4 linked regions of the Homo sapiens genome follow. The protein of the gene in region 3 purifies or fractionates together with the protein of the main gene of each other region. This does not show direct contact. Each region holds a gene or a part of one and is shown on either strand. Other genes may lie near its edges.

The links.
Region 1: the proteins of THAP12 (region 3) and SRSF4 purify together in Homo sapiens (affinity purification with mass spectrometry; one large-scale study listed by BioGRID and IntAct). This does not show direct contact.
Region 2: the proteins of THAP12 (region 3) and EIF2AK2 purify together in Homo sapiens (affinity purification with western blotting, with the first as the bait; one study listed by BioGRID). This does not show direct contact.
Region 4: the proteins of THAP12 (region 3) and RIC3 purify together in Homo sapiens (co-immunoprecipitation; one large-scale study listed by IntAct). This does not show direct contact.

Annotation. Positions count from the first base shown.
Region 1 is NC_000001.11:29,174,094-29,181,686, reverse strand, and holds part of SRSF4 (serine/arginine-rich splicing factor 4), read left to right. Parts: coding exon 1-41; intron 42-5,968; exon of another isoform or gene 5,969-7,593. UniProt on the Homo sapiens protein: Plays a role in alternative splice site selection during pre-mRNA splicing. Represses the splicing of MAPT/Tau exon 10.
Region 2 is NC_000002.12:37,144,284-37,151,876, reverse strand, and holds part of EIF2AK2 (interferon-induced, double-stranded RNA-activated protein kinase), read left to right. Parts: intron 1-2,572; exon of another isoform or gene 2,573-2,853; 5' UTR 2,854-3,020; exon of another isoform or gene 3,021-3,383; intron 3,384-3,471; exon of another isoform or gene 3,472-3,505; intron 3,506-4,054; 5' UTR 4,055-4,070; coding exon 4,071-4,189; intron 4,190-4,903; coding exon 4,904-5,024; intron 5,025-7,593.
Region 3 is NC_000011.10:76,362,416-76,370,008, reverse strand, and holds part of THAP12 (52 kDa repressor of the inhibitor of the protein kinase), read left to right. Parts: intron 1-4,036; coding exon 4,037-4,157; intron 4,158-5,576; exon of another isoform or gene 5,577-5,671; intron 5,672-7,593. UniProt on the Homo sapiens protein: Upstream regulator of interferon-induced serine/threonine protein kinase R (PKR). May block the PKR-inhibitory function of DNAJC3, resulting in restoration of kinase activity and suppression of cell growth.
Region 4 is NC_000011.10:8,111,546-8,119,138, forward strand, and holds part of RIC3 (protein RIC-3 isoform a precursor), read right to left. Parts: intron 1-7,593. UniProt on the Homo sapiens protein: Molecular chaperone which facilitates proper subunit assembly and surface trafficking of alpha-7 (CHRNA7) and alpha-8 (CHRNA8) nicotinic acetylcholine receptors.

The sequences.
Region 1 (7,593 bases), on a different chromosome or scaffold from region 3:
AAGGGCTACGGGAAGATCCTGGAGGTGGATCTGAAGAACGGGTGAGGAGGGCGAAAGAGGGTCCGGCCGGGCGGGGACAGACCCCATAGGTGGTGGGGAGGCCGCGGGGACGGGAGAGGGACGCCTGGTCCGCGCGGAGCGGCTACCGGCCTGGCCAGGCTCCGCCATAGTGGCGGCGCCTCGGGGGCGCGGGTAGGCCCCGGTTCCCACTGCGCCTGCGCGGGTGGGGGTGGTGGAGGCATAATGGGAGCTGTGCTGAGGCCCTGAGTGGGACGGGGAGAAGGAAAGCCCGAGTGGGGCTGGTGCTCCGGGCAGGGGGGCACAGCTCCAGGGCGCCCGGGAGACCTGGGTTTTCCCTTCCTAGGCCCGGAACTGGGGCCCTATTCGTTTCTGGGTAGACACCAACCTTTCCCGCTCTGAGGACTACTGGAAATAAACAGGATTTCCTGCTCCCTTTCACCTCTTGCCCGGTCTCATGGATCAGACGGTCACAGCGCCGTCTTCCCCGAGGACTGGAGCCTTGGAGGGAGGCCCTTTTTAGCCGTGTGCCACGCTTTTTTGGGCGGGAGACTCCAGTTTGAGTAGTCTAGTGACAGTTTCGAAAGTATCGTCTTGCCGTGCTGAAAGCCTTCACCGTTCCCTCTGCAAGAGTAAATTAAAGTCTTAACTTCTTATCTTTAAGACTCCGTGCAGAGTTTCCACGCTGTGGTTTCCGTTTTCCAACTTACCGAAAAATTGCTTGGCCGTTGTAGAATTTGTTAGGAGAATAGTGGCCACCCTGGCTAGTATCTGCGTCTGGTTAACGCAGACGGAGACGAAATTGTTAACTTACTGCCTCCCCCAGAGTATGATCTATTACTTGTATTCTTAATCTACTTCGGCAAAAATAGTGCCAGCATGAGCTACAGGTTTTAGGGAAAACTGTTGAGGAATCAGGCCTGGAGAAAATACTCAACGGGGAAAACTGGGAACCAGATGTTAGGTAGGGCTTGGAAGGCATGGATATAAAATTAAAAGGACTGGGGTGACATTTTAGGGCACTAAACCTTGGGTGTTAGAGAACTCTTGGCTTAAAAAAGAAACTCTACTTTGCAACAGTTGTAATATAGCTACCGTTTACTCCCCAGGGTTATACTAGTAACTGACACCTGAAACATTTTGAAAGTTACCTAAGTATGTTTCACGTATGAGAAAACTGGTAGCTACCGTATTCTCAAATGATGATTTGGGTTTAAAAAGCCATTTCAAATTAATTATTAGAATCGTTTTCTTTCTGAGGACGTCTTTAGTAAAGTACTGATTTCTTTTACAGTAAAAGGCTTTAAAAACTACTCCTTTTCTACAGTAAAACGTTCAGTTCTTAAGGATATATTGAAGTGGCGGGTAGACGTTATTGTATACATACCATATATGTGAAAGTTGAAACTCCAGTTTTTTTCAGAGCCCAGCTAAATTGACAGCATAACTAACTTTTGTGGACAAAGTGTGGATTTTGAAGCCAGCCAGGCCTAAGTCAAATCCTGGTTCCACCACTTACTACGTATGGGCAAGTTACTTCTCTGAACCTGGTTGTTCATTCATGTGGAAAAGGAAGATTAGAGATAATAAATGTAAAGCATTTGGCTTAGGCAGTAAGTGGCAGCTATAATCAGAGGGATGAGGAAACATCTTTGCTTGTTGGTGTTTGATAACATAAAGCGTGTTTGGTGAGGTCTTTTCTAATGTTACTCAGGTGATAGTGTGCAGGAAATGACAAGACTGTTAATGGGAAACTGATTCATCAACCAAATGTATTGATAACCCATCAACAAAATGTCCACCACTGTGCTAAATGAATTGGGGGAGGAGGCAGAAAACAGTTCTGCTCTTGAATAAATTAAGCATTATGACATGTGCACTTTGAATTAAGAAATGTTTGCTTTCGCTTTAAACTCTAGTAAAACTTGGAATGATTTGCTTGAAAAGATGTGTTGAAATGGCTTTGAAGAATAGATTAGAGCTTGAAGTGAAGAAATTTAGGTTTCTGGGAATAGTATATGTCGTAGTTGGGGCTCAGGCATGGTGACTTGTGCCTGCAATCCCAGCTGAAGTGTGAAGATTACTTCAGGCCAGGAGTTTGAGACCAGCCTGACCCCATCTCTAAGAAAAAAATTTTTTTAATTAGCCACGCGTGGTGACACTCGCCTATAGTCCTAGCTACTTCAGAGGATGAGGCAGGAGGATCACTTCAGCCTAGGATTTCAAGGCTACAGTGAGCTATGATTGTGACACTGCACTCCAGTCTGGGTAACAGCAAGACCCCCATCTCTAATAAAATAAGTACAATGCTGACTTTTTTTGCTTTTTGATGAATAGGGAAAAAATATTTTTTTAATGTCATAATTGGTGTTGAAGACATGGTCCAGTAAGAAGCAATTATGAAAAATAATAAACAATCTAGCATGGATCAAGCCTTATGAAGAATCTAGAAATTTAACAACATAAACCAGAAACAACGACTATTAGATTTTACACTAAAAATTCGAAATCAATGAGTAGGAATTCAAAGGCTCTGGAAGGAAGAAGTGAGCAACCCAAAAGGAAGATGGAGCGATAAGAGGAAAGAGCCTTTCAGGACCCTAAATACCTGGGTGGTTTTTTTAAGGAACTGTTCATTCTTACAGTTATGCTGCCAAACCATGATATGCATGAAATGTCATTGAAAGTCAAGGTTGAAATGAAGTCATTTTAGAGTTTCAAAGACAGGTATGACAGTCACCAAACAGCACACAATATGACCTCCTGGCATCATTGAGGAATCATTACAGAGGAAAACGACTTCTGGGAAGAAGACCAATGGTAAAGATGTATTTCAAGCAAAAATTGCCTGTATGGCAAAAACGCTGGAGAGTCTGAAAGGAAGGAGTGAGTACAAAAGAAAAAGCATAACTTAGCTACGTATGTAAGCTTATAGTCCCCTAGCAGAAGGGCAGTGGATCTCCCTACTGGGAAGCATGTTTGAACATATCTAGATTGTGATTAGTAATTGAAACTCAGAGGCCGGGCGCGGTGGCCTGTAATCCCAGCACTTTGGGAGGCCGAGGCGGGCAGATGACGAGGTCAGGAGATCGAGACCATCCTGGTTAAGATGGTGAAACCCCGTCTCTACTAAAAATGAAAATAAAAATTAAAAAAAAGTAGCCGGGCATGGTGGCAGGCACCTGTAGTCCCAGCTACTCGAGAGGCTGAGGCAGGAGAATGGCGTGAACCTGGGAGGTGGAGCTTGCAGTGAGCCGAGATCGTGCCACTGCACTCCAGCCTGGGCGACAGCGAGACTCTGTCTCAAAAAAAAAAGTAATTGAAACTCAGAAACAGATTTTGGATGCTTTAGATAGGTCTTTGAAGAATTGCTGGAGTTCAGATTTGTAGAAGTGAGATGTATCAGTAGATATGTTAGGCTGAAGGGTTGTAAGTTAAGTTTAGAATTAAGGCATAAAATGCTTGTCTAGACCGGTCACGGTGGCTCACACCTGTAATCCCATCACCTTGGGAGGCCGAGGTAGGTGGATCACTTGAAGTCAGGGGTTTGAGACCAGCCTGGCCAACATGGTGAAACCCCATCTCTACTAAAAATACAAAGATTAGCTGGGTGTGGTGGTGGGCACCTGTAATCCCAGCTCCTCTAGAGGCTAAGGCAGGAGAATTGCTTGAACCTGGGAGGTGGAGGTTGCAGTGAGCAGAGATTGCATCACTGCACTCCAACCTAGGCAACAGAGCAAGACTCTGTCTCAAAAAAAAAAAAAAAAAAAAAAAATCTTGTGTAATAGGAAGATGACCAAATAAGGAAACAAATGAGTTCTTCAAAGGAGATTTAGTGTTCAGGAAAGGATTCTATGGACCCTGAGAGGGTTTGGAGAAGAGGTGTGTAAGCAAGAGTTCATTGCCTACCGTTTTATTACACCAGGCATCGCTAATGTAGATTGCCACTGTTCTAGAGAACTTTTTGAAAGATGGTTTGGGACCACAAATACAACGAAGATCTCCCAGGATCATATAGACCATTCCATTTCCCATTAAGGTCTCCTACTTTTCTACCCGCCCCATAAACTTCAAGAGTCACTGCAAGGGCCTGGCACGGTGGCTCACACCTGTAACCCCGGCACTTTGAGAGGCCAAGGCAGGCAGATCACCCAAGGTCATAAGTTCAAGACCAGCCTGACCAACATGGAGAAACCCCTGTCTCTACTAAAAATACAAAGTTAGCCGGGCGTCGTGGCACATGCCTGTAATCCTGGCTACTCGGGAGGCTGAGGCAAGAGAATCACTTGAACCTCAGAGGCATAGGTTGCGGTGAGCCGAGATCCTGCCATTGCACTCCAGCCTGGGCAACAAGAGCAAAACTTCGTCTCAAAAAAAAAAAAAAACAAAAAGAGTTACTGTAGGGAAGGGAGGGGCAGGAATCCTAGATGCACGTCAAGGAAGCAACAATATTAGCAGCACTTGTTTATACCCTTTCAGCTCTGTGGTAACTTTTGTTGGCTTTGATTGTATATAGATTTTATTTTTTATAATAAGCCATTTCATGTAAAGTGTGAAAGAATTTTGAGTACACTAGTTGCCCTTTTGTCATAAAATCTTGTGGTTTTAGTCAGATCTTTATATCTTAGCTTTTCCATATTTTAGTTAATGAGTAAAACTTACCACATATTAAGATTATTTTGCCTGTCTAGTAGCTAGAAGGATAAACCCCCAGATCATTGAAATTTATAGTTTTATTTTTTAGTTCAAGTCATGAATTAAAACTCTCAAGGGAAACTTGGATTTAAACTTCAGAACCTGCGTTTCATGGAACAGTGAAATCATGAATAGCCTGAATTTTCAGGGGATGTTGTGGTCTGTTTAGTCATGCTATCTAATTATTACCAGAAAATTTTTGTTTTCGCCCTTGTTTAATGCACCATAATTTTTTTAATGTGGAGTTCAAGACTCTTCGAGTGAGGCAGGTCGTTGTTGTGTATGTCACTGCTCACTGGAGGGCATTATTAAGCCTTAGATACTGAGAAGAATTACTGCCAACCCCAGCACCTACACAGGGATTTTTCTCTTTTGACTCCTGAATTCTTGACAGATTAGGAAGTATATAGTTAGTTTAATGTTCCAGGTTGCTGGTTTCTGGTTAGATGAGCTGTTACAGTATTTTTTTCTTTTTTTTTTTTTTAAAGTTTTTAGTTTTTAATTCTCCCAAGGCTTCTCCCAAGGCTCTGTCATTCATCGTTACCGTATTCTTAATCATGAGAGGGATTATCTTCACCCACCACCAAGTGGCAGAGAAGTGCTTTATCATTTTTATGATAATGCTATAACTAATGAGTGACAAAAGAAAAAGCAAACACTTTGCCTTTAGGAACCCTACCACCTATTTGTTGTTTTTTTGTTTTTTGTTTTTTGTTTTTTTTGAGATGGAGTCTTGCTCTGTCGCCCAGGCTGGAGTGCAGTGGTACAATCTCAGCTCACTGCAACTTCCGCCTTTTGGGTTCAAGCAATTCTCCTGCCTCAGCCTCCCAAGTAGCTGGGACTACAGGCGCGTGCCACCACGCCCGGCTAATTTTTTGTATTTTTAGTAGAGACAGGGTTTCACCGTGTTAGGCAGGATGGTCTTGATCTCCTGACCTCATGATCCACCTGCCTCGGCCTCCCAAAGTGCTGGGATTACAGGTGTGAGCCACCATGCCCGGCCACCTTTTTGTTTTTAAGCCCTTCTGCCAGCCTCAGAAATAGCATCCCATTTGCACTGGCATGTACAAAGCATTAGAGTCTATGTTAAGAAAAGGAAGACATTTGGTTCTGGATTAATTTTAGGATTATCTAAGAAGAGGTTAAAACAAGTTTTGTTTAAAAGCGTGTTTGAATAACTCTCTTTATGTATAGTTAAAATTAAAGACCCACTCTTAATTTTCAAAGTAGCACATATTTATAATTGGAAATTTTTTTTTTTTTTTTTTTTTTTTTTTTTGAGACAGCGTCTGGCTCTGTCGCCCAGGCTGGAGTGCAGTGGCGCAATCTCGGCTCACTGCAAGCTCCGCCTCCTGGGTTCACGCCATTCTCCTGCCTCAGCCTCTCAAGTAGCTGGGACTACAGGAGCCCGCCACCGCTCCCGGCTAATTTTTTGTATTTTTAGTAGAGACGGGGTTTCACTGTGTTACCCAGGATGGTCTCGATCTCCTGACCTCATGATCCACCCGCCTCGGCCTCCCAAAGTGCTGGGATTACAGGCGTGAGCCACCACGCCCGGCCGGAAATTTTTTTTGAGATGGAGTCTCTGTCTGTTGCCCAGGCTGGAATGCAGTGGCACAATCGTGGCTCACCTCCCAGGTACAAGCGATTCTGCTGCCTCAGCCTCCCAAGTAGCTGGGATTACAGGTGTGCACCACCACCCCCGGCTAATTTTTGTATTTTTTGTAGAAACGGGGTTTCACCACGTTGGCCAGCCTGGTTTTGAACTCCTGACCTCAAAGTGATCTACCTCACAAAGTGCTGGGATTACAGGCGTGAGCCACCACACCTGGCCTATTATAATTTTTTTATATGGAGAAGGACCAAAATAATCCAAAGATGTAACTCTTTGCATTTTGGGTTTTTTAGTTTTACTTTTTTTCACATACAGGTATGGGCATGTGCACGCACGCACTCTGTCTCTCTTCTTTTCTTTTTTTTTTTTTTAATTAAAAAACCCACCGGCCAGTTGTGGTGGCTCACGCCTATAATCCCAACACTTTGGGAGGCCAAGGCTGGCAGATCACAAGGTCAAGAGATTGAGACCATCCTGGCCAACATGGTGAAACCCTGTCTCTACTAAAAATACAAAAATTAGCTGGGCATGATGGCGCACGCCTGTAGTCCCAGCTACTCAGGAGGCTGAGGCAGGAGAATTGCTTGAACCCAGGAAGTGGAGGTTGCAATGAGCCTAGATCGGGCCACTGCACTCCAGCCTGGTGATGGAGCAAGACTCCATCAAAAAAAAAAAAAAAAAAACCTATCTCCTGCACAGTCTCTCCCTTTTCTTATGCCTCTCCTGACTCCTTTTTTTTTTCCAAACTTGGAATCATACTATAAGTTATTTTATAATTTGCTTGTTTCACCCTAACAGCCTGATCCTTTTCCTTTGTCATTAAGTATTCTCCTACAACCTGGTTTCTAATGGCTACATAGTACTCCAACATACATATGTTATTTAATGGACATAATCAGAACCATGTTGCAAGGCATTTAGGTTATCTTTATTTTTGTACTATTTTATGCATGTATAATACTGTTGAATATCCTTTATATGAATTTTTGTATACATTTCTTTTTGCCTTAGGGCAGATTCCTGCAAGTAGACTTTGGGAGTCAAAGCATATACACATTTTAATGCTTTTGCTAGCTATTCCATTACTCGGTAAATTAATATTTACGTTTCCACCTGCGGTGTTTAAGAGCTCCTATTTTTTTTTTTCTTTTTTCTTTTTTTTTTTGAGATGGGGTCTCAATCTGTCTCCCAGGCTGCAGTGCAGTGCAGTGGCATGATCTCAGCTCACTGCAACCTCTGCCTCCCGGGTTCAAGCAGTTCTCCTG
Region 2 (7,593 bases), on a different chromosome or scaffold from region 3:
TCGATCTCCTGACCTCGTGATCCGCCCGCCTCGGCCTCCCAGAGTGTTGGGAGTACAGGCATGAGCCACGGCGCCTGGCCTATCCATGTTGTAGCATGTATCAGTACTTCATTTTTTTTGTGACTGAATAATATTCCGCTGTGTAGATATATTTCACATTTTGTTCACCATTTATCCGTTGATGGACACTTGGTTTGTTTCCACCTTTTGGCTATTGTTAACAGTGCTGCTATGTACATTCCTGTCTAAGTCTTTGTTTGGAAACCTGTTTTCCAATTCTTTGAAATATCTAGGAATGGAATTGCTGAGTTTTATGATAATTCAAAGTTTACCTTCTAGAGGAACCCCAGCAACCGTATTGTTTTACATTCTTATCAGCAGTGTTTGAGGGGTCCAGTTTCTCCATGTCCTCACCAACACTTATTTTTTATTATTTCCTGATTATTATTATTATTGCCATACTAGTGGGTGTGAAATTGTATTTAGTTGTGGTTTTGAATTCCATTTCTTTAATGACTCATGATGTTGAGTATCTTTTCATGTGCTTATTGGCGATTTACATATTTTCTTTGGAGAGATGTCTGTTCAAGCCCCTTTGCCTATTTTTTTAATTGGGTGGTTTGTCTTTTTGTTGTTGAGCTGTAAGAATTCTTTATATATCTGGTTACTAGACCCTCATCAGATATATGATTTGTAAATATTCTATTCTGTAGATTGTCATTTTATTTTCTTCATAGTGTCCTTTGATACACAAACGTTTTAAATTTTGATGAAGCCCAATTTATCTCTGTTTTCTTTTGTTGCTTGTGCTCTTGCTGTCATAGCTAAAATTTTATCACCAAATCCAAAGTCATGAAGATCTCCCCCATATTTTCTTCTAAGAGTTTTATAGTTTTCGCTTGTACATTTATATTTTATATCCTCTAAATTTTGTTTATAATTTAAATCATTGCTATAGACTTGGTCCAGTGAGACCTATAAACAGAGGTCTTAATTTACTCAGTGGTTAAATTGTCCTAAAATTGATTTCTGCAAAATTCAGAGGGGAGATTTTTGGGATTTCATAGAGAAATCTATATCCATACAGTTAAATCCTTCATGATTTCATACACTTCACTTTTTTAAAGTATTAAAACTTTTTTATTTGAAGAATACGTGGGGAGAAGAGAAATATATTTCAGCACTTAGATATGTAGATTATTTCCAAAATAGTTTACCACTCAACTAGTCACTTCTGTGTAAATCAGTTTTCCCTGAAGCAAGCATTGTGTTGTTCCCGGCTACAAGCGGTCCTCATTTTGCATGGTACTGTGGGACCATAAAAATGGCCATGCAAAGCAATCTTAATAATCAATGGGGAAAATGATGATTGTTCCATGACCTTTAAAATTCTGCTAAAATATTAAAACTCTTAAGGTCAGTTATAAATGTAGAAAAAAATGCAAAAAAAATTTAAAAATATTTAGTACACTGTAATTTAAAACATTAAAAATAGAATTAAAGTGTTTTATTTCATTGTGAAAACTAAGTAGTTTGAATAGGGATTGCCTTTTTTTTCTGCCAAGTGACTTATGATACTGAGTAAGCATCTTTTCTATTCATGGCAAACTGTCATACTCCTTTTAAGTTTGGGTGAGCTTCCAGCCTTTTATTGCTTGTGCTTTCAATGTTGTGAAGTATTTCTGTATTCACATTAAATGCTCTTTAGTGTGAAGTTTGTTTTTTTTTTTTTTTTACCGTCACTTCCTCTGGGACATATTTATCTTTATTGCAATCACTTTTCTTATTTGTGTTGATAAGTTTGCCTTCACTAAGCTCCTATGAATGCACAGCAGGAAGAACATTCCCATGATCAGTGACTTCTTCTACAAATCCATTTATGTTTGATTCAAATTTCACTTCCAGTGTTATCATTTTTCGTTGCTTTGTTGGACTTTCATCTTTGTTGGCCAGTTCTTTCGATTGTTCACTTCTATAAAATGTCAGGTGGAGGACAAAGAGACAGTGTAACTACGTGCTCTGCTGTGAGTGAACTGATTAACAGATGCACAGGGACCAACCACTGGAAGAATTTGAAACAAGTAACACGACTGGTCACTGATCATGAAGCATATCTGTTATTTACATCGTGATTTGTAGACTGAAGAACTAGCAGAGAAGTTTGTACTTCCTGTAATTACTCAGAGTTATACTGTGCTACCTAAAATTTTAACCTAGGTTTAAACAACACCAGTTTCCTTACCAGTTTCCTTTCCTTCCTGGTAAGGAAACTGGTATTTAAACTAAATCTAGGTCACTGAAATTTGTGCCATGGGAACCGTGCACATTGAGGACCTGCCTACACCCTACATGTTTATATTGGTCCAGGCAGGCTTAATGCTGACTACTGAGAAATAGGCTATCTGAATTTATATCAAATAGTGAATCTTAAAGCACCCAAGATGAAAAATTCGTGCACATTGAGGTGCTTTTAAAATCTTTGTCATTTGACAATCAAGCTTAAAATGTATCTTAGAGTAACCGAATTTTAGAAATAAAGACCTTTAAAGGCCCCATAGTTTGATACCACAGATTATCCAGCATGTTTATAATGAATTATTTCTCCTCCTTCAATTTCAGTTTGCTCATACTTTGTGACTTGCGGTCACAGTGGCATTCAGCTCCACACTTGGTAGAACCACAGGCACGACAAGCATAGAAACATCCTAAACAATCTTCATCGAGGCATCGAGGTCCATCCCAATAAAAATCAGGAGACCCTGGCTATCATAGACCTTAGTCTTCGCTGGTATCACTCGTCTGTCTGAACCAGCGGTTGCATTTTTTTAAGCCTTCTTTTTTCTCTTTTACCAGTTTCTGGAGCAAATTCAGTTTGCCTTCCTGGATTTGTAAATTGTAATGACCTCAAAACTTTAGCAGTTCTTCCATCTGACTCAGGTTTGCTTCTCTGGCGGTCTTCAGAATCAACATCCACACTTCCGTGATTATCTGCGTGCATTTTGGACAAAGCTTCCAACCAGGTACAAGCGGTCTTCCGAATTTTGCACTCAGAAAAGTGGCATCATCTAAGTCAATTACATGCAAATTCTGGGGGGCTAGTTTTTTGTGTATGTTAAATGGGTCACAACACGACTTCTGTAAATCCTCAAATCTGTCAATATAAATTTTTATGTGATGAAAGCAAATTGTATTGTTCCTAGAAAGTGTCCTTCCAGTTCTAAGTTGAAGTAAAAGCATGTCATTTGATGACAATTCTTGCAACATCTTAAAACCTGTGTGACAAGTATAGTAGGTTTTATGGCACTCATTTGTAGTACGAAGCTGGACTGCAACTATCGATCCATCATTGTTGATTCTAGCATATTTTCCTTGTTTTATTTTGTCTAGAGATCTAGGTCACGGGCTGATCACCCTTAGCTTGAGCTCTCCTCCGCCTGGCTTCCGGCAGGATCCACGTCCACACAGGCACACTTGCCTGCCCGTTCATTTCCCAGCCTGTCCCCATGCTACCACTCCACTTCACTTATTATATATACTCTAAATCTTTTTCTTCTCAACATAAAACATTCTACAATCCTGCAGCCTTTTTACTTTTTTAAGCAGGTAGGCAAACATGTAGTTGATACTCAGTGGAAGCACAGAGCAGAGTTAAAGAGAAGGACCCCCTTTCACTGACCAGTTGAGTTTTTTTTCTTTCCTTTATTTTTTAAAACAATTTCAAAATTGAGATGGGGTTTCGCCATGTTGCCCAGGCTGGTCTCGAACTCCTGAGCTCAGGTGATCCGCCCACCTTGGCTGGGATTATAGGCGTGAGCCACCACACCTGGCCAAGTTGAGTTTTTAAAGTAGAAAATTTTGGAGAAATTAACTTTATTGTGCAGTGAATGAGAAAGAAAGAACGGTTTTGAAAGAAAGTCTCTGCATTTATGTGAGACTGAGATGAGTCCTATAAAGGGGAGTCTCCCCAACCCCTCTGTCTCCTAAACTGCATTGGGAAACTCAGATTAAATATGTTCTGTGAGCATCACTCATTCAAATGTCTCTTCCATTGTAGGATACGGGAAGAAGAAATGGCTGGTGATCTTTCAGCAGGTTTCTTCATGGAGGAACTTAATACATACCGTCAGAAGCAGGGAGTAGTACTTAAATATCAAGAACTGCCTAATTCAGGACCTCCACATGATAGGAGGTAGGTTGCTATAAAAAATGATATGGCAGCCATAAAAAATGATGAGTTCATGTCCTTTGTAGGGACATGGATGAAGCTGGAAACCATTATTCTCAGCAAACTATCGCAAGGACAAAAAAACCAAACACCGCATGTTCTCACTCATAGGTGAGAACTGAGCAATGAGAACACATGGACACAGGAAGGGGAACATCACACACCAGGGACTGTTGTGGGGTGGGGGGAGGGGGGAGGGATAGCATTAGGAGATATACCTAATGCTAAATGACGAGTTAATGGGTGCAGCACACCAACATGGCACATGTATACATATGTAACCTGCACGTTGTGCACATGTACCCTAAAACTTAAAGTATAATAATAATAAAATTAAAAAAAAAAGAAAAAAGATATGACCTTATAAATGTAAGCTGGGGGAATGGCAACTCTGGCACAACTTTGAGGTCAACACTTTAGTTTTGTGAGAGTGCTCTTGGCATAAAGTGGGAACCATGGTGGAGCCACAGTTGACTCCAGAGAGAAAAGAGGGTAGAAACCTTTCCATGCTTCAACAAGACATGCTGCTTTACTGTTTGAGGTGACTGCTTAAATGCTATATTGAATGTAGGTTCAAACCCTCAAAGGTAGTCATAGGAGGTAGTGATGACTAGAGTACTTGTTTTTAGATAGTGCATGAGTTGTATAATATTTTATGAATATTCTCTTTGTAATCAGGTTTACATTTCAAGTTATAATAGATGGAAGAGAATTTCCAGAAGGTGAAGGTAGATCAAAGAAGGAAGCAAAAAATGCCGCAGCCAAATTAGCTGTTGAGATACTTAATAAGGAAAAGAAGGTGAGTGATTGCCTTTTTTCCTAATAAATGGGAACTTGCAAATACATTTTCTGTTTCTCTCTGTGAGAAAATACTTTCATACAGAGTAAAGCCATTCACACGTTCCCTTACATTCAAGAGTTTGGTTAAGTCATTCACCCTATCTTCATTTCTATGAAACCCTGAGTGAGAGCCACACCTAGGACACCATGGGCAAAGCTGGATAATAGTTATTTAGAGTGTCAGCAGCAGTTAAATACTCTAAAGTTGAACAAATATGGAAAGGTGAGAAGTGTTCAGTGGGAAATGAGCTGACAGGTTCTGGGAGGAGTCCCCTCCACCTAAATGAGGAAGTACAGTAAAAAAGGAAAAAGAGATGAAAGTGATTGTAGGGAGAATAATGTACAGTGGTCACTCACTCTCTGTGGGGAATTGGTACCAGGACTCCCTGTGGATGCCAAAATTCACTGATGCTCAAGTCCTTTATATAAAATGGCATAGTATTTACATATAACCTATTTACATCTTCCCATATACAGTTATGCATTGCTTAACAAGGAGAATACATTGTGAGAAATGCACCTTTGGGCAATTTCCTCATTGGGCAAACATCATAGAGGTACTTACACAATCCTGAATGGTACAACCAGTACACACCTAGGCTGTGTAGTATAGCTTATTGCTCCTAGACTACGAACCTATACAGCATATTATTGTACTGAATACTGTAGCCAATTGTAACACAATGTTTAGTATTCATGTATCTAAACATATCTAAACACAGAAAAAGTACGGTAAAAATACAGTATAAAAGACAAAAGGCTGGGCTTGGTGGCTCACACCTGTAATCCTAGCACTTTGGGAAGCTGAGGCGGGTGGATCACCTGAGGTCAGGAGTTGAAAACCAGCCTGGCCAACATGGTGAAACCCTGTCTCTACTAAAAATACAAAAAATTAGCTGGGCGTGGTGGTGGACGCCTGTAATCCCAGCTACTTGGGAGGCTGAGGTAGGAGAATTGCTTGAACCCGGGAGAAGGAGGTTGCAGTGAGCTGAGGTTGTGCCACTGCACTCCAGCCTGGGGATCCTATCTCAAAAAAAAAAAAAAAAAAAAAAAAAAAAAAAAAAAAAAAGACAAGCAAAAGTACACCCATATAAGGCACATACCATGCATAAATAGAGCTTGCAGGACTGGAAGTTGCCCTGAGTTTGTCAGCAAGTGGGTGGTGAATGAATGTGAAGGCCTAGGGCATTATTGTTTACCACTGTAGACTTTATAAACACTGTATACATAAGCAACATTCATTTTATTTAAATTTTTTTTCTTCAATAATAAATTAACCTTAGCTTACTATAACTCTTTTACTTTATAAACTTCTTATTTTTAACATTTTCACTCTTTCCAAATAACACTTAGCCTAAAACACAAACGCGGCCAGGCGCGGTGGCTCATGCCTGTAATCCTGGCACTTTGGGAGGCCAAGGCAGGCAGATCACCTGAGGTCAGGAGTTTAAGATCAGCCTGGCCAACACGGTGAAACCCTGTCTCTACTGAAAATACAAAAATTAGCCGGGCATGGTGGTGGGCACCTATAATTCCGGCTACTTGGGAGGCTGAGGCAGGAGAATTGCTTGAACTCAGGAAGCGGAGGTTGCAGTGAGCCGAGATCGTGCCACTACATTCCAGCCTGGGCGACAAGGCAAGACTCTGTCTCAAAAAAAAAAAAAAAAAAACCCACAAAACCACAAACAAACACATAGTATGGCTGTACAAAAATATTTTGTTTCTTTACATGTTTATTCTATAAGCTTTTTTCTATTTTTAAAATTTTAAACTTTTTTTTTTAACTTTTAAACTTTGTTGTAAAAAATTAAATCATGGTTGGGCATAGCGGTTCATGCCTGGGATGTCGAGGAGCCATGATTGTGCCACTGTACTCCAGCCTGGGTGACAGAGTGAGACCCTGTCTCAAAACAAAACAAAACAAAACAAAGGCTGGGTGTGGTGGTTCATGCCTGTAGTCCCAGCACTTTGGTAGGTCAAGGTAGGTGGATCACTTGAATTTGGGAGTTTGAGATTAGCCTAGGCAACATGGTGAAACCCTGTCTGTACTAAAAACACAAAACATTAGCCGGGCTTGGTGGCATGTGCCTGTAGTTCCAGCTACTCAGGAGGCTAGGCGGGAGGATCACGTGCCTGAGAGGTCAGGGCTGCAGTGAGCTGTGATCTTCTGACTGCACTCCAGCCTGGGCAACAGAGCAAGACCCTGTCTCAAAAAAAAAAAAGAAAGAAAAAAAATTACAACACAAACACACACATCAGCCTAGGCCTACACAGCGTCAGGATCATCTACATCACCATCTTCCACCTCCAGATTTTGTCCCTCTGGAAAGTGTTCAGGAGCAATAACATACATGGAGGTGTCATCTCCTATTGTAGCAATTCCTTCTTTTGGATTACCTACCGAAGGACCTGCCTGAGGCTGTTTTACAGTTTACTTTTTTTTTTTTAAGTAGAAGGAGTAACTTCTAAAATAATGATAAAAAAAGTATAGTAAATATATAAACCAGTAAGTTACTTATCATTATCCA
Region 3 (7,593 bases):
AGCCAGACCACCCCATATTTAAAGATTCACTAGAAGGGCTTGCAGGACTCAGTATATGGTTGTACTCACAGTGAAGATTTATTGCATTGTAGTAAGGATACACATCTGGATCATGAGGGAAAAAGACAGGCACAGTCTGAAGGAATCCATGTATAGGCTTCCCTATGCTCCGTCTTTCCCATGAGGGGGTCACCCAGAGCCCGTTTTTCCCCAGTGGTGGAAATGTGGCAACACGTGCCGTGTTTCTGTGGAGAGAAGACCGTTAGAGACGTAGTGTCCGAGGTTTTTACTGGGTCCTGATCACATAGGCAGCCTCTGCCTGGCATATAATAAAATTCCAAATTCCCAGAAGGGATGGCAGGTGTTCAGCAGGTGTGCTTGTTTGCACAAGCAGTCTAGGCACATTGAGCTGCATTATCAGTTAGGAAAAATTTTATTTCTGTGTATGGAACTGTTTACCAACCAAGTTCCCGGATACCAGCCCAAGGTCCTTAACAAACAGGCCTTTCTAAGGACAGCAGCCTGAGGTCTGCTGTGTTAACTCTTTTTCTGAACAATCACTATGAATGAGTTTTGCCTGTTCTAGAATTTCATATCAAAGGAATCATGTAGTATGTACTCCTGGCTTCTTCTGCTTAACATTACGTTTGTGAGATTGTAGATAGTTTGTTCATTTCATAGCCAAGTAGTATTCCATTGAATGAATATACCACAATTTATCCATCCTGCTGTTGATGGGCAAAGTTACTTCACCTTCTCCCCAATATTTGGTATTACCTCTTTTACATTGTAGTCATTCTTGTGGGTATGTAGTAATTTGTTTTGGCTTTAATTAGCATTTCCCTGATGGCAAATGAGATCGAGCATTTTTTTTTCATCTATGTATTGCCATTTTTATAACCTTTTTATTATAAAGTGCCTGTTCAAGGCCCCTTGCCTATTTTTATGTTGGGTTATTTATTTGTAGGAGTTCTTCATATATATTTTGAATGTGAGTCCATTGTTAGATATATGTATTGCAAATATCTGACATTTTGTGGTCTGCCATTTCACTCTTAAATGGCTTCTTTTAATGAAGAAAAGTTATTAACTTTAAAGTAGCCTAATTTATATATCTTTTCCTCTAGCATTTGTGCTGTTGCCTTAAGAGATCTTTATTCCAAGGTCATGAAGATAATCTCCTGTGTTATCTTTTAGTGGCTTTATTGTTTTACCTTTCATATTTAGATCTCCAATCACTTGGAACTTATTTTTGTGTATGGTGTACAAGTAGGAGTTAAGATTTATTTTTTTCATGTAGATATTCAGCTGACTCGGCCCTATTTATTGGAAAAGAAAAATCCATATTTGCTGCTGTTCAGAGCTACCTTTAAGTATCTGCAGTGCTCTATTTTGTTTCACTGTTCTGTCCTTCTGCCAGTACTTGTCTTAATAAGCTTTACAGTAAGTCTTAATATCTGGTAGTGTAATTCTTTCAACCTCCTTTTTCCTCTCTCTCTCTCAAGATTATCTTGGTTATCCCTGGTTCTTTAATGTTGTGTATAAAAAGTTTTAGAATAATTTGTCATTTCTTTCTCTTGCTCTCTCTCACAAACTTACTGGGCTTGTGATTATATTGAATTAGTAAATGGGTTTGGGGAGAATTGACATCTTTGGAATTTAGTGTGCCAGTTCATAAACTTGTGTATTTATTTAAGTTTGCTTTAAAAAGATTATTAGAGGTCTTGCACTTCTTTCACTAGATTTATTCTTAAGTAGTTCATATAGAAAGTCAGGTGTATTTGATTAGGCTCTCTGCCTGATGCCCATTCTGTTCTTGATTGTCTGAATAAGAGTTGCTGTTGATATCAGAAAGCTGTTTCAACTTAGTTCGGAGGTAATATGTACAGTATTGCTCTGTGTGGAAGGTCTCCAGAGATTTAAGAATTTAAAAAACAAACAACTGTAGCAGTATGGCAAATTATTTTATAGTGAGATCGTTTTTATACTTAATATTTGGATTTTGAAACATGAAATGTTTATAATCATAATGTACAACTGTGTAAAAGTGTGATTAAATTGTGAACATCTTAGGCATCGTTACTGTGAGCAGTAATACTTGTTGGTCAAATGAAATGCTGTACAATTTAGGTGTAGTTTTTTAAAAATCATAGCATTTTACCTTGATTTGACATTTTTAGAGTAGAGAGAATTAAGTGTCAGGGGCATGTATGTTGGGGGGAGGTGGACAATAGTGTTAAAACATAAAAAAAAAATACTGTGATTTAATTATAAAGGAATATGTTGGGCCGGGCGCAGTGGCTCGCGCCTGTAATCCTAGCACTTTGGGAGGCCAAGGTGGGCAGATCACCTGCGATCTGGAGTTCGAGACCAAGCTAGCCAACGTGCTGAAACCCCATCTGTACTATAAATACAAAACTTAGCTGAGTGTCGTGGTGCACGCCTATAATCTCAGCTCCTTGGGTGGCTGAGGCAGGAGAATTGCTTGAACCTGGGAGGCAGAGGTTGCAGTGAGCTGAGATCACACCACTGCACTCCACCCTGGGCTAAAGAGCAAGACACCATCTCAAAAAAATAATTTGTGATACTGTTTATCCACGGCAGAACTTTTATTCTTAGAAATTTGAGGAATGGGCCGGGCGCGGTGGCTCACGCCTGTAATCCCAGCACTTTGGGAGGCCGAGGCGGGCAGATCACCTGAGGTCGGGAGTTCGAGACCAGCCTGACCAACATGGAGAAACCCAGTCTCTACTAAAAATACAAAATTAGCCAGGCGTGGTAACGCATGCCTGTAATCCTAGCTACTTGGGAGGCTGAGACAGGAGAATCGCTTGAACCCGGGAAGCAGAGGTTGCAGTGAGCCAAGATCATGGCATTGCACTCCAACCTGGGCAACAAGAGCAAAACTCTGTCTCAAAAAAAAAAAAGAAAAGAAAAGAAATTTGAGGAAAGATCTAGTTGTGACTTTAGCAAGTTACTTAATATTTCTGTGCCTTCATCTGCACAAGGGGGATATTAATAGTACCCATCTTTGGAAAGGACTTAGAACGTGTCTGGCTCATAATAAGTGCTTATTATTAGCTTTTCTGAAAATATTTAAGCACCGAGAGGGCATGGACTTTGTCTTGTTCTCTGTCTTCAACACTTTTTGTGTACTAGATTGTGTAGTCACAGTCCCTGCATTCATGGAGCTTGCAATCTAGTCAGCACGTATTACTGTAGATAATAATTTGTGTTCATAGGAAGATAAACGAATACAGCCTTTATGCTTCCCTTAGAAACTAGTTATTTAAAGAACATCTAGTTGCTGATTTTTTTTTTTTTTTCCGAGACGGAGTCTGGCTCTGTCACCCAGGCTGGAGTGCAGTGGCGCAATCTCGGCTCACTGCAAGCTCCGCCTCCCGGGTTCACGCCATTCTCCTGCCTCAGCCTCCCGAGTAGCTGGGACTACAGGCGCTCGCCGCTTCGCCCAGCTAATTTTTTGTATTTTTAGTAGAGACGGGGTTTCACCGGGTTAGCCAGGATGGTCTCGATCTCCTGACCTCCTGATCTGCCTGCCTTGGCCTCCCAAAGTGCTGGGATTACAGGCGTGACAACACGCCCGGCCTAATTGCTGATTTTCTACAGTGACAGTGTTGTTTTGTATGCTTGTTGAAGTTGAAATCCTGAAGGGAATGTTAAGCTGTGAGCCTTGTGGCTGTGCATGCAGCTTTCTGCTTGTTCTGCTGATGGTTGAATCTTCTCTGATGTTTTGGGAGTTGGAAGATGCAGGTTTCAGTTCTAGTTCTGCTGATGATTTTGTACTTCCCTCCAAACAAGTTACTTCTTAACCTTGTCTGTAATTGAAATGTTGGTACTAAATGACTTCTAAGGTTTTTTCCAACTGTTATTTTGTTATTAATCAAATTCTCCAAATTATGTTCTCAGGGAGGGGAGCAGGAATCCGTTGTTATTAATGTATGTTTGCCTTAAAACTGAAGGCTGAAATTTAAATGCTGAGCTCATTTTCATAATTGTATTTTGGTTTTATTTATAGATGCCAGAAGTGGGTGGAGAACTGTAGGAGAGCAGACTTAGAAGATAAAACACCTGATCAGCTAAATAAACATTATCGATTATGTGCCAAACATTTTGAGACCTCTATGATCTGTAGAACTGTGAGTAATAGAAGAGCTTGGTGTCTCTCTGTTTGACTTGATTTCTCTCTCTCACTGTGTCTGGTTGGAAATGTAAGTATTTACCAATGTTGGAAGGTATTCCTATATCCTGCCACTTTAAGATGAAGACAGATTTGGAGCTGAAAAGTATCTGTTTTGTTCTTAAAATCCTGATTTTGCCGGGGGCCTATAATCCCAGCACTTTGGGAGGCCGAGGCAGGAAGACCACTTGAGCTCAGGAGTTTGAGACCAGCCTGGGCAACATGGCCAGATGCCGTCGCTACAGAAAATACCAAAAAAACTAGCGAGGTGTGGTGACGTATGCCTGTAGTCCCAGCTACTTGGGAAGCTGAGATGGGAGGATACTTGAGCCCATGACGTCGGGGCTGCAGAGAGTTGTGTTCATGCCACTACACTCCACTCTGGGCGACAGAGTGAGCGCTTGTCTGGAAAAAAAACTCAAAATGATTAAAACAAAACAAAACAAAACAAAACTCTTCGGTTCCTGGTGCCCCATTTCTACTCACCCAAGGTAACTACTTTTTTTTTTTTTTTTTTTAAAGACAGTCTTGCTCTGTCACCCAGGCTGGAGTGCAGTGGCGCTATCTTAGCTCACTGCAACTTCTGCCACCTCCCCCACCTCCTGGGCTCAAGCGATTCTCTCTCCTCAGCCTCCCAAGTAGCTGAGATTACAGGCATTGTGCCACCACGCCCAGCTAATTTTTGTACTTTTAGTAGAGGTGGGATTTCTCCATGTTGGCCAGGCTAGTCTCAATCTCCTGACCTCAAGTGACCCGCCCACCTCGGCCTCCCAAAGTGCTGGGATTACATGTATGAGCCTCCACACCCGGCTGAGGTAACCACTTTTAAATATTATTTAGTCTTCAGGAAAATTTTAGATGATTATAAAAGTATATGTTTATTTAAGGTAAAGTTGGTGTTTTTATTTGGAGCTCTTTAGAGCTTTTTTATGAGTAAAATTTTCATCTCGGAATGGAGCTCTTGTTTTCATGTTTTTGTATGTACTATTAGAACCAACTTTTAATTTTTATGTGGTAGATATAATGGTAAACAAATTATCCAGGTAATGTGGAAAAACATTTTCATCAATAATATGTAATTTCATATCAGGACCTACTGTTAACTGTGTGAGCTTGGCCAAGTCACTTCCCCTCTTTGGGCCCCAGTTCCTAATAAGGAGATTAGGCCAGGTAATTCCTGAGTTCTAAGATTTTTAACCCTCTGTGATTCTCTTGCTGTGATTTATAAAAGGCACAAATAAGGCAAATTTGATTGAAATGAAGCAGACTTGTTTCAGTGTAACTAATGTAACACCTCAGATATTGGGATAGACATAAACTTGATTCAAAGGTACACTATATGTTGTTATGCAGCAATTTATTTTGATATTTTTTTCAGATACATTTTGCAGAGGCATCAGAAAACTAAAGAATGATTGGGTTATTTTATTTCTCAAAATTAATTGAAGCAGATACTTGTGAAGTCATTGGGAGGTGAGCCAATTCCGGTTCAACAGTTTAATCACAAATATTTGAGGAATATTTTTGCCTTGATTTGTTAAAAGGGTAATAATGATCAACCAAAATAAAAGGTTTCATATGTTTAAAAGGCAAACTACTTTTATGTTCTTGACATGAAGTAAAAATATCCCAAATTATTTTAAATACATTTGCCATATGCATTTTTGCATTTTTATTTTAGTAATAAATATGGTCTCTTAATTAGATAATTCTAACCAGATTGTGAGAAATTTAAAGGATAGTTCATTCTTACATTCTTTAGTTAGAGAATAGAACAGAAAGATGAGCCAGGTTTGCTTTTTTAATTTCTAAATGATTCTTCAATCTTGAATAAATGAACGCAAATGTGAGAAAATGTTCTTTCTATACGTCTAGGAGATGTTGTTATTAAAAACTGGATTTCTGGGCTGGATATGGTAGCTCACACCTGTAATCCCAGCACTTTGGGAGGCTGAGGCGGGCAGATCATTTGCGGTCAGGAGTTTGAGACCAGCCTGGCCAACGGGGAAACCCCTTCTCTACTAAAAATACCAAACAAAACAAAACAAAAAAAATTTTGCTGGGCATGGCGGTGCACACGTGTAATCCCAGCTGCTCAGGAGGCTGAAACAGGAGAATCGCTTGAACCAAGGAGGCCGAGGTTGCAGTGAGCCAAGATTGTGCCACTGCACTTCAGCCTTGGTGACAGAGTGAGACTGTGTCTCAAAAACAAACAAACAAAAACCCCTGGATTTTCTGATATCTGTATCTAAATGTTTAAGAGTTTTGGCTTTATTAGTTTGGCATTGAAGATCTCATCAGTAGCAAGGCACAGTGGCACGTGTCTGTAGTCCCAGCTACTCAGGAGTCCAAGGCTGAAGGATTGCTTGAGCCTAGGAATTCAGAGCCAGCCTGGGCAACATGGTGGTGAGACCCTGTCTTTAAACAGACAAAAAAAAAAAGATTTCATCAGTAAACATTCATGACTACTGAATTTGGCCGGAGCCAAATATTTTATTATTTTGATGCTAGAGTAAGATTATTCTTTTATGCTCAAACCTTAATTCAGCAGTTAAAGATTAAATCTTGATACTGAGATACTTGGTATCATACGTAGTATTTGAATATTGTCTTTTTTGGCATGTGTCCTTATAGATATTTATATTTTTTATTATTATTATTTTTTTTTGAAATAGGGTCTCACTCTGTTGCCTAAGCTGGGGTGCAGTGGCGCAGCCATGGCTCACTGCAGCCCCGACCTCCCAGGCTCAAGCAATCCTCCCCGCTGAGCCTCCCAAGTAGCTGGAACTACAGGCACATGCCACCATACCTCGCTAATTTTTGTATTTTTTGTAGAGATGGAGTTTTGCCGTGTTACCTAAGCTGGTCTTGAACTCCTGGGGTCAAGCCGTCTACCCGGCCAAGGCCTCCCAAAGTGTTGGAATTACAGGTGTGAGCCAACATTCCTGGCCAAAATAAATATTTGTAAAATGTCATTTTTTTCATTCATACATTCTGTTTTCTGATCTATAATATCTTTGCTTTATTTGCAAATAGAAAATCAATTTGATTTGACTTTTAAAAATTTGTTAAAATGTTTTATTCCTCCCCTCCTTATTTAATAATTAGTAAGATATCAAGAATTGACTGTGTATGTGTTTTTGCTTATTTTGGGGACATTTGCTCGGTGTGAAAGATGGGGGAGCTTTGAATATAATAACTTGTACTCCCTTCAGTGATTGTGTCCCTAACCAATTCCTCATTCAGCCTCCCTAGTAGACTCAGGATCACGAGCCCAGCACTAGAAGTTGAGTGTTACTAGGAAGTCAGAGAATCATCTTTGTGTTTTCTATTATGGCATGGAATTGAACTAGAAAATATTGACTCTGAATAGAAATTCATCCCAAATGTGTTTA
Region 4 (7,593 bases), about 68 Mb from region 3:
CTTCCTTGGTGGAGTGGGGAGAGGAAAGGAATGCTAAGCTCTTTGAAAAATACACCATGAAGCTTTCTATTTATCCAAACAATTGAAATGGCTTGCAAGTGTCAAAAATAGAGAGCACTTTAGCAAGGCATGCCCAAGATCCCGAAAGGACAAGCACTGCATTTTCGGAAGACAGAATTCCTGTTGTTGGCTTCTTCATCTTCACAAAATGGAACAAAAGAAAACAACAAACTGGCAAACAAAATGAGTAACACTGGTACTGAATCCCAGCTAGGATAATGAGAAAAGAGAAACTGTTGCCAAATTACCAAACTAAATGAAATAAATCTGTGTCCGCCAAGCAAGCCTGAGCAGCAGATGGGCCGTGCTGGAGCTCACACACCAGTACTGGCACCAGCGGCCGTAATCACGATACAGTGCAGAAAGCTGGAGGATTCAGAACCCATTTGCCCATTATGATAATTGGCAAATTCAACCCTAACGTAAACCATTTTTTGCCTACAACTGTGACAAATAAGTCTTTTTTGGTGCAATGTAGGGTGTGTGTGGAGACATTTCTACATTTACTGCTTTTTCTGACTATAAAAATCATACAGACTCATTTGTAGAAAATTTGAAAAAAATACAGGCTAGTTTAAAAAAGAAAACACAAATCACCCATAATATCTTCACTCATAATAATTTGCTTTTTTCTGGTCTTTTTTTAACCGTATATACACATATATTTTCTTTTCTTTTCTTTTCTTTTCTTTTTTTTTTTTTGAGACGGAGTCTCGCTCTGTCGCCTGCCCAGGCTGGAGTGCAGTGGTGCAATCTCGGTTCACTGCAACCTCTGCCTCCCCGATTCAAGTGATTCTCCTGCCTCAGCCTCCTGAGTAGCTGGGATTACAGGTGCATGCCACCACACCTAGCTAATTTTTTGTATTTTTAGCAGAGACGGGGTTTCACTATGTTGGCCAGGCTGGTCTCAAACTCCTGACCTCAGGTGATCCACCCACCTCGGTCTTCCAAATTGTTGGGATTACAGGCATGAGCCACCGCGCCCGGCCAACATGTATTTTCTTATTCCCCTTTTTTAAAAAGAAGGATCATATTTGTGTATAAAAGGTTATATCCTGATGTTTTTCAATTCAACATTATATCATGAGCATCTCTCCATGTCATTAGGCATTTGAAAGTTGGTTGCAAAATATCTCATCATATAGCTACATAACTGACATGATTTACTAGTCCTCTTTTCTAGGGCATTTAGATTCTTTCCAATTTTCCCCTATTATAAGTAGTATACAAGTTAAGATTTCTTAATATAAATCTATGTCCACTTCCCTAGTTCTTTAAGATAGACTTCTATAAATATGAAAACTAGACCAAAGGGAATGGACATTATAAAAGCCTTTTTTATACTGTGCCAAATTACTTTCCAGAAGAGTGGTATAAATTTTCAATCCTACCAGTGATATAAAGACTGTCCATCTTATGACACCCTCACCAGCACTCACAGTAGTATGTTAAGAATTTTGCCAATGCAGTCTTTATTCCAAGGCTTAACTTACTGCGGATGGAATGCTAGGTAAAGTGGAGCTTAGCTAACCCAAGACCCTCAGCCACCATGGTCAAGGATAGGATCTGGAGAAGCTGCTTGCTAGTCAGCTCCCAGCCACTGAATGCTTAAAAGAAGTCCATTTGCTGGCATGTCCCTGTCTTCCCACACTTAGAACAAAGCTTATCTTTGAATTTTCATGACTATCTGCTTTAAGAGGGAAGGTCACCCAGACTCAGGCTCTCAGCCTACCCCAACACCAGGCCTCAGTCCAGCTCTGCATCCCTAGTCATAATGCCTGCACCCACAGACCCAGCCTCCATGCTGGCCCCTGCAGATACAGACTCCGGGCCCACCCAGCATCAGGCCAGCAACTATGGCCCCAGAATCCAGTCCCACCCTAGGTTCCAGACAAAACCAGAGCCAGGTCTGCCCACATAGCCCAGTGCCAAATTGGCACCCCAATGGCACCCAAATTGGAGCCTGCAGACACAGGCTCCAGGCCTGCCCAGTGCCAGGCTAGTCTCTATGACCACCCCCACCTTCAGGTTGGCCCCTGCATTCCCACAATCCAGCAGACCCTGGGTCTAGCCCAACCCAGTAGACCCCAGCATTGGGCCGGCCCTCAGAACCCCAGGACTGCCCCTATGGACCTAGGTTCTAGGCTGAGGCCTGTGGCCCCAGGACCCAAGCCAGCCCTAATGAACCTAGCCTTCAGACACATCCATCAGACTCAGCCTCCAGGCCCATTTCAGTGGACCCGGGCACCAGGTTCATCCTAGCACCTGGCCAATCTCTGAAGACCCAGGCTCAAGGCCCAGTCCAGCCCCAGGTCAGCCCTTGTGGACCTAGGCTTTGGGATAGCCTCTCTGCACAAGATACAAGCACCAGGTCCATGCCTGAGGATCCAATCAACAGGTACACCCCAGTGGATCCAGGCTTCAACCCCAACCCCACGGACTCAACACCAGGCCACCCTGCCTAAGGACTCTACCAGCAAGTCTACCTGCAGATCACACCAAATGGCCTACCCAGAATCTCTGGGCAGGCTGACTGGTGAATGGCTTTTCCGGACAAAGCCAGAATGCAAAAACCATTCACCAGCAAAAGTCCCTGCTTCTTCAAATGCACAGATACCAATGCATAGCCATGAGGATCAAGAACAATCAAGGAAACATGTTGCCACCAATGAACAAAATAAAGCACCAGGAACAGACTCTAAAGAAATGAAGATACGGCCGGGCGTGATGGCTCACGCTTGTAATCTCACACACTTTAGGAGGCCAAGACAAATGGATCACCTGAGGTTAGGAGTTCAAAACCAACCTGGCCAACATGGTAAAATCCTATCTCTACTAAAAATACAAAAAATTAGCCGGGCGTGGTGGCAGGCGCCTGTAATTCCAGCTACTCAGGAGGCTGAGGCAGAAGAATCGCTTGAACCCAGGAGGCAGAGGTTCCAGTGAGCCAAGATCAAGCCATTGCACTCCAGCCTGGGCAACAAGAACAAAACTCCATCTCAAAAAAAAAAAAAGAAAGAAAGAAAGAAAAAGAAGACACATGAACTGCCTGACAAAGAATTCAAGATAACTGTTTTAAGGAAACTCAGCGAACTTCAAGAAAATACAGAGAAACAATTAAAGGAAACCAGGAAAACAATAAATAACTAAAACAAAAAATTTACGAGAGATTGAAATTATATTAAAAAAATCAAACAGAAATTCTACAGCTGAAAAATACGAGAATTGAAATGAAAAATGCAATAGAGAGTATCAACAGCAGAACTGATTGAGCAAAAGAATGAACCTTTGAATCTAAAGACAGATTATTTGACAATATACAGTTGGATGAGAAAAAAAGAATGAAAAGAAAGCAAGCTTATGGGATTTATGGGAACTGGAGTTCAAGAAGGAGGAGACGGACACAAAGGGATAGAAAGCTTAAAGAAATAATAGCAGAAAACTATACAAATCTGGGGAAAGTTATAAATATCTGGGTACAAGAAGGTCAAAAGTCTCCAATCAGACTGAACTCAAGTAAGACTATATCAAGAAGTATTATAATCAAACTATCAAAAATCAAAGACAGAGAGGATGCTGGAAGCAGCAAAAGAAAAAAAGTACATCACATTATAAGGGAGTTCTAACAGATTTATCAGCAGAAACCTTAAAGGCCAGAAAAGAGTGGGATAATATATTCAAAATGCTTACGGAAAACAAAAACAAAAACAAAAAAAAAAAAGGTCAACCAAGAATATTGTAGTTGGCAAAGCTCTCCTTCAGAAATGAGGAAAAAACAAAGACTCTGCCAGACAAAAGCTGAAGGAGCTTATCCCCACAAGATCTATCTTATAAAAAATGCTCAAGGGTGTTCTTCAAGTAGAGAGCAAGGGACACTATTCAGTAACACAAATATACATATATATATATATGAAAGTATAGGCTAGGTGCGGTGGCTAACGCCTGTAATCCCAGCACTTTGGGAGGCTGTGACAGGTGGATCACCTGAGGTCAGGAGTTCGAGACCAGCCTGACCAACATGGTGAAACTCCACCTCTACTAAAAATACAAAATTAGCTCGGCATGGTGGTGCATGCCTGTAATCCCAGCTACTTGGGAGGCTGAAATGAAAACTATAAAACATTGATGAAAGAAATTGAAGAAGACACAAATAAAATGAAAAGATGTCCCGTTTATGGATTGGAAGAATTGATACTGCTATAATGTCCATACTATACAAAGCAATCTACAGATTTAATACAATCCCTATCAAAATTTCAATGACAATTTTCACAGAAATAGAAGAAACAATTCTAAAATTCATATGGAACCACAAAAGACCCCAAATGGCCAAAGCAATTGTGAACAAAAAGAACAAAGCCAGAGGCATCACAGTACCTGATTCCCAAATCTACTACAAAGCTATAGTAATCAAAACAGTATGTTACTGGCATAAAAACAGACACACAGACTGATGGAACAGAATAAAAGCCCAGAAATAAATCCACATATTTATGGTCAATTTTTTTAAACAAAGATGCCAAAAAATAAAACACACACACACACAGGTCAAAGGACAAACACAAAAAGGTCAAAGGACAATCTCTTCAATAAATGGTGTGGGGAAACTAGATATCCACATGCAAAACAGTGAAATTAGACCCTCATCTCACACCTCACATTTACAAAAATCAACTCAAAATGCACTGAAGACTTAAACATAAGACCTGAAGCTGTAAAACTACTAGAAGAAAACCTAGGGAAAAAGCTCCATGACATTGGTCTGGACAATGATATTTTTGGATATGACACCAAAAGCCCATGCAACAAAAGTGAAAATAGACAAATGGGATTACTGAAAGTTTCTGTACAGCAAAGGAAACAACAGTAAAGAGACAATCTATGTAATGGGAGAAAATATTTGCAAACCATATATTTGATAATGGGTTAATATGCAAAATATATAAGGAACTCAACTCCACAGCAAAAGAAAACCCAATTTAAAAATGGGCAAAGGATATAAATAGACACTTCTCAAGAGAAGACAGAAAAATAGTCAACAGGCATATGAGAAAGTGCTCAACATCATTAAACATTCAAGAAATGAAAATTTAAACCACAATATCACCACATCTGTTAGAATGGCTATTATCAAAAAGACAAAAGGCAATAATAAGTGTCAGCAAGGATGTAGAGAAAAGGGAACCCTTATATACTATTGCTGGGAATGTAAACTAGTACAGTCACTATGGAAAACAGTATACTGGCTCCTCAACAAATTAAAAATAGAACTATCATATGATCCAGTAATCCCACTACTGGATATATATCCAAAAGATAAGAAATCAGTATGTCAAAAAGATATCTGCACTCCCATGTTCACTGCAGCATTATTCACAATAGCCACACTATAGCATCAATCTGAACATCCATGAATGGATGAATAAAGAAAATGTGGCACATATACACAACAGAATAGTACTTAGCATTTTTTTGTTTTTGGAGACGAGGTCTCACACTGTCACCCAGGCTGGAGTGCAGTGGCACAATCTCAGCTCACTGCAGTCTCCACCTCTTGGACTCATCTCAGCCTCCCACCTCAGCCTCCCAAGTTGCTGGGACTAGACACATGCCACCATGCCTAGCAAATTTTTGTATTTTGTGGAGACAGGGTTTCACCGTGTTGCCCAGGCTGGTCTTGAACTCCTAGGCTCAAGCAATCCACCTGCCTCGGCCTCCCAAAGTGTTGGGATTACAGGCGTGAGCCACCATACCTGGCCTACTGAGCTTTCAAAAAGGAAATCCTGTTATTTATGACAACCTAGATGAACTTGGAGGACATTATGTTAACTGAAATAAGCCAGGCACAGAAAGACAGATACAGCGTGATTTCACTTACATATGGAGTGTAAAAAGGTCAAGCTCATTAAGAAAATAAAATGGTGGTTATCAGAAGCTAGGGGGATCAGGGAAATGCTAGTCAAAGGACATAAAATTTCAGCTGGATAGGAGGAATAAATAAGTTCAAGAGATCTATTATACATTATACAGACTATAGTTAATAACAGTATGTTGTATATTTGAAAATTGCTAACAGAGTACATTTTAAGTGTTCTCACCACAAAAATCCTTAAGTATGTGAGGTAATGTGTATGTTAAATAGCTTGATTTAGCCATTTCACAGTGTATACATATATCAAAACATCAATATATATAATTTTATGTATTAATTAAAATAAATAATTTTCTTTTTAAAAGAGGAAGAGGCCCACTGAGGAAAATCAAATAATAACTCATAAAACTGCTGAGGTAGCCTATGTAAGCCATCATTACTGGTTACTCAAAAACATCATTAAGGCTGGGCACGGTCGCTCACGCCTGTAATCCCAGCACTTTGGGAGGCCGAGGCGGGCAGATCACGAGGTCAGGAGATCAAGACCATCCTGGCTAACACGGTGAAACCCCATCTCTACTAAAAATTAAAAAAAATTAGCCAGGCGTGGTGGCAGGCGCCTGTAGTCCCAGCTACTTGGGAGGCTGAGGCAGGAGAATGACGTGAACCTGGGAAGTGGAGCTTGTAGTGAGCCAAGACCCTGCCACTGCACTCAAGCCTGGGCATGACAGAGCAAGGTTCCATCTCAAAAAAAAAAAAAAAAAAAGACCATCATTAAAAATATAAGCAAGCAACAAAAATTCACTGCTCCTATGAGGAAACCAGCAGTTCAAAATGAGGGAACAAAACTAACCAAAACAAACAATGCCAATAGTCTCTAATAAAATAGTTAGTGCAGGAGATAAAGGCGTTAACATCAACCAATTTATGATTGATATTCCTAATAATATTCAAGAAGATACTGCATTGATAAAACCTAGCCAGGCTTCAATTTAAAAAGGTAGCAAACAAGAAATAAAAAGGAGCTATTGAATAGAAAGCCATAATTGTAAAAAAAAAAAAAAAAAAAAAAAAAAAATTAATGCTCAGGCAAGAAAACAGCAGATTGGGCTGGGCGCAGTGGCTCACGCCTGTAATCCTAACAGTTTGGGAGGCTTAGGCAGTTGGATCACCTGAGGTCAAGAGTTCGAGACCAGCCTGACCAACATGGCAAAACCCTGTCTCTACTAAAAATACAAAAAAAATTAGCCAGGAGTGATGGCGGGCACCTGTAGTCCCAGCTACTTAGGAGGCTGAAGCATGAGAATCACTTGAACCCAGGCAGCGAAGGTTGCAGTGAGCTGAGATCACACCATTGCACTCTAGCCTGGGAGACGGAGTGAGACTCCATCTCAAAAAAAAAAAAGAAAAAATAGCAGATTGAAATGGACATGGCTGAAAACCAAATTAGTATATTAAAAGTCCAAGTTGAGGAATTCTCCCAGCACAAAGATAAAATGATAAAGAAATGGAAATTATGAGGAAAAAAGATAAGCTACATGGCAAACTATCAACAATATCCAATCTCAGAATTACTGGAATTCTAGAATGAGAGAACAAAATAAGGTAAATGGGAACAATAATCAAAGAGATTATAAAAGAAAATACCCTTTAGCTGAAGA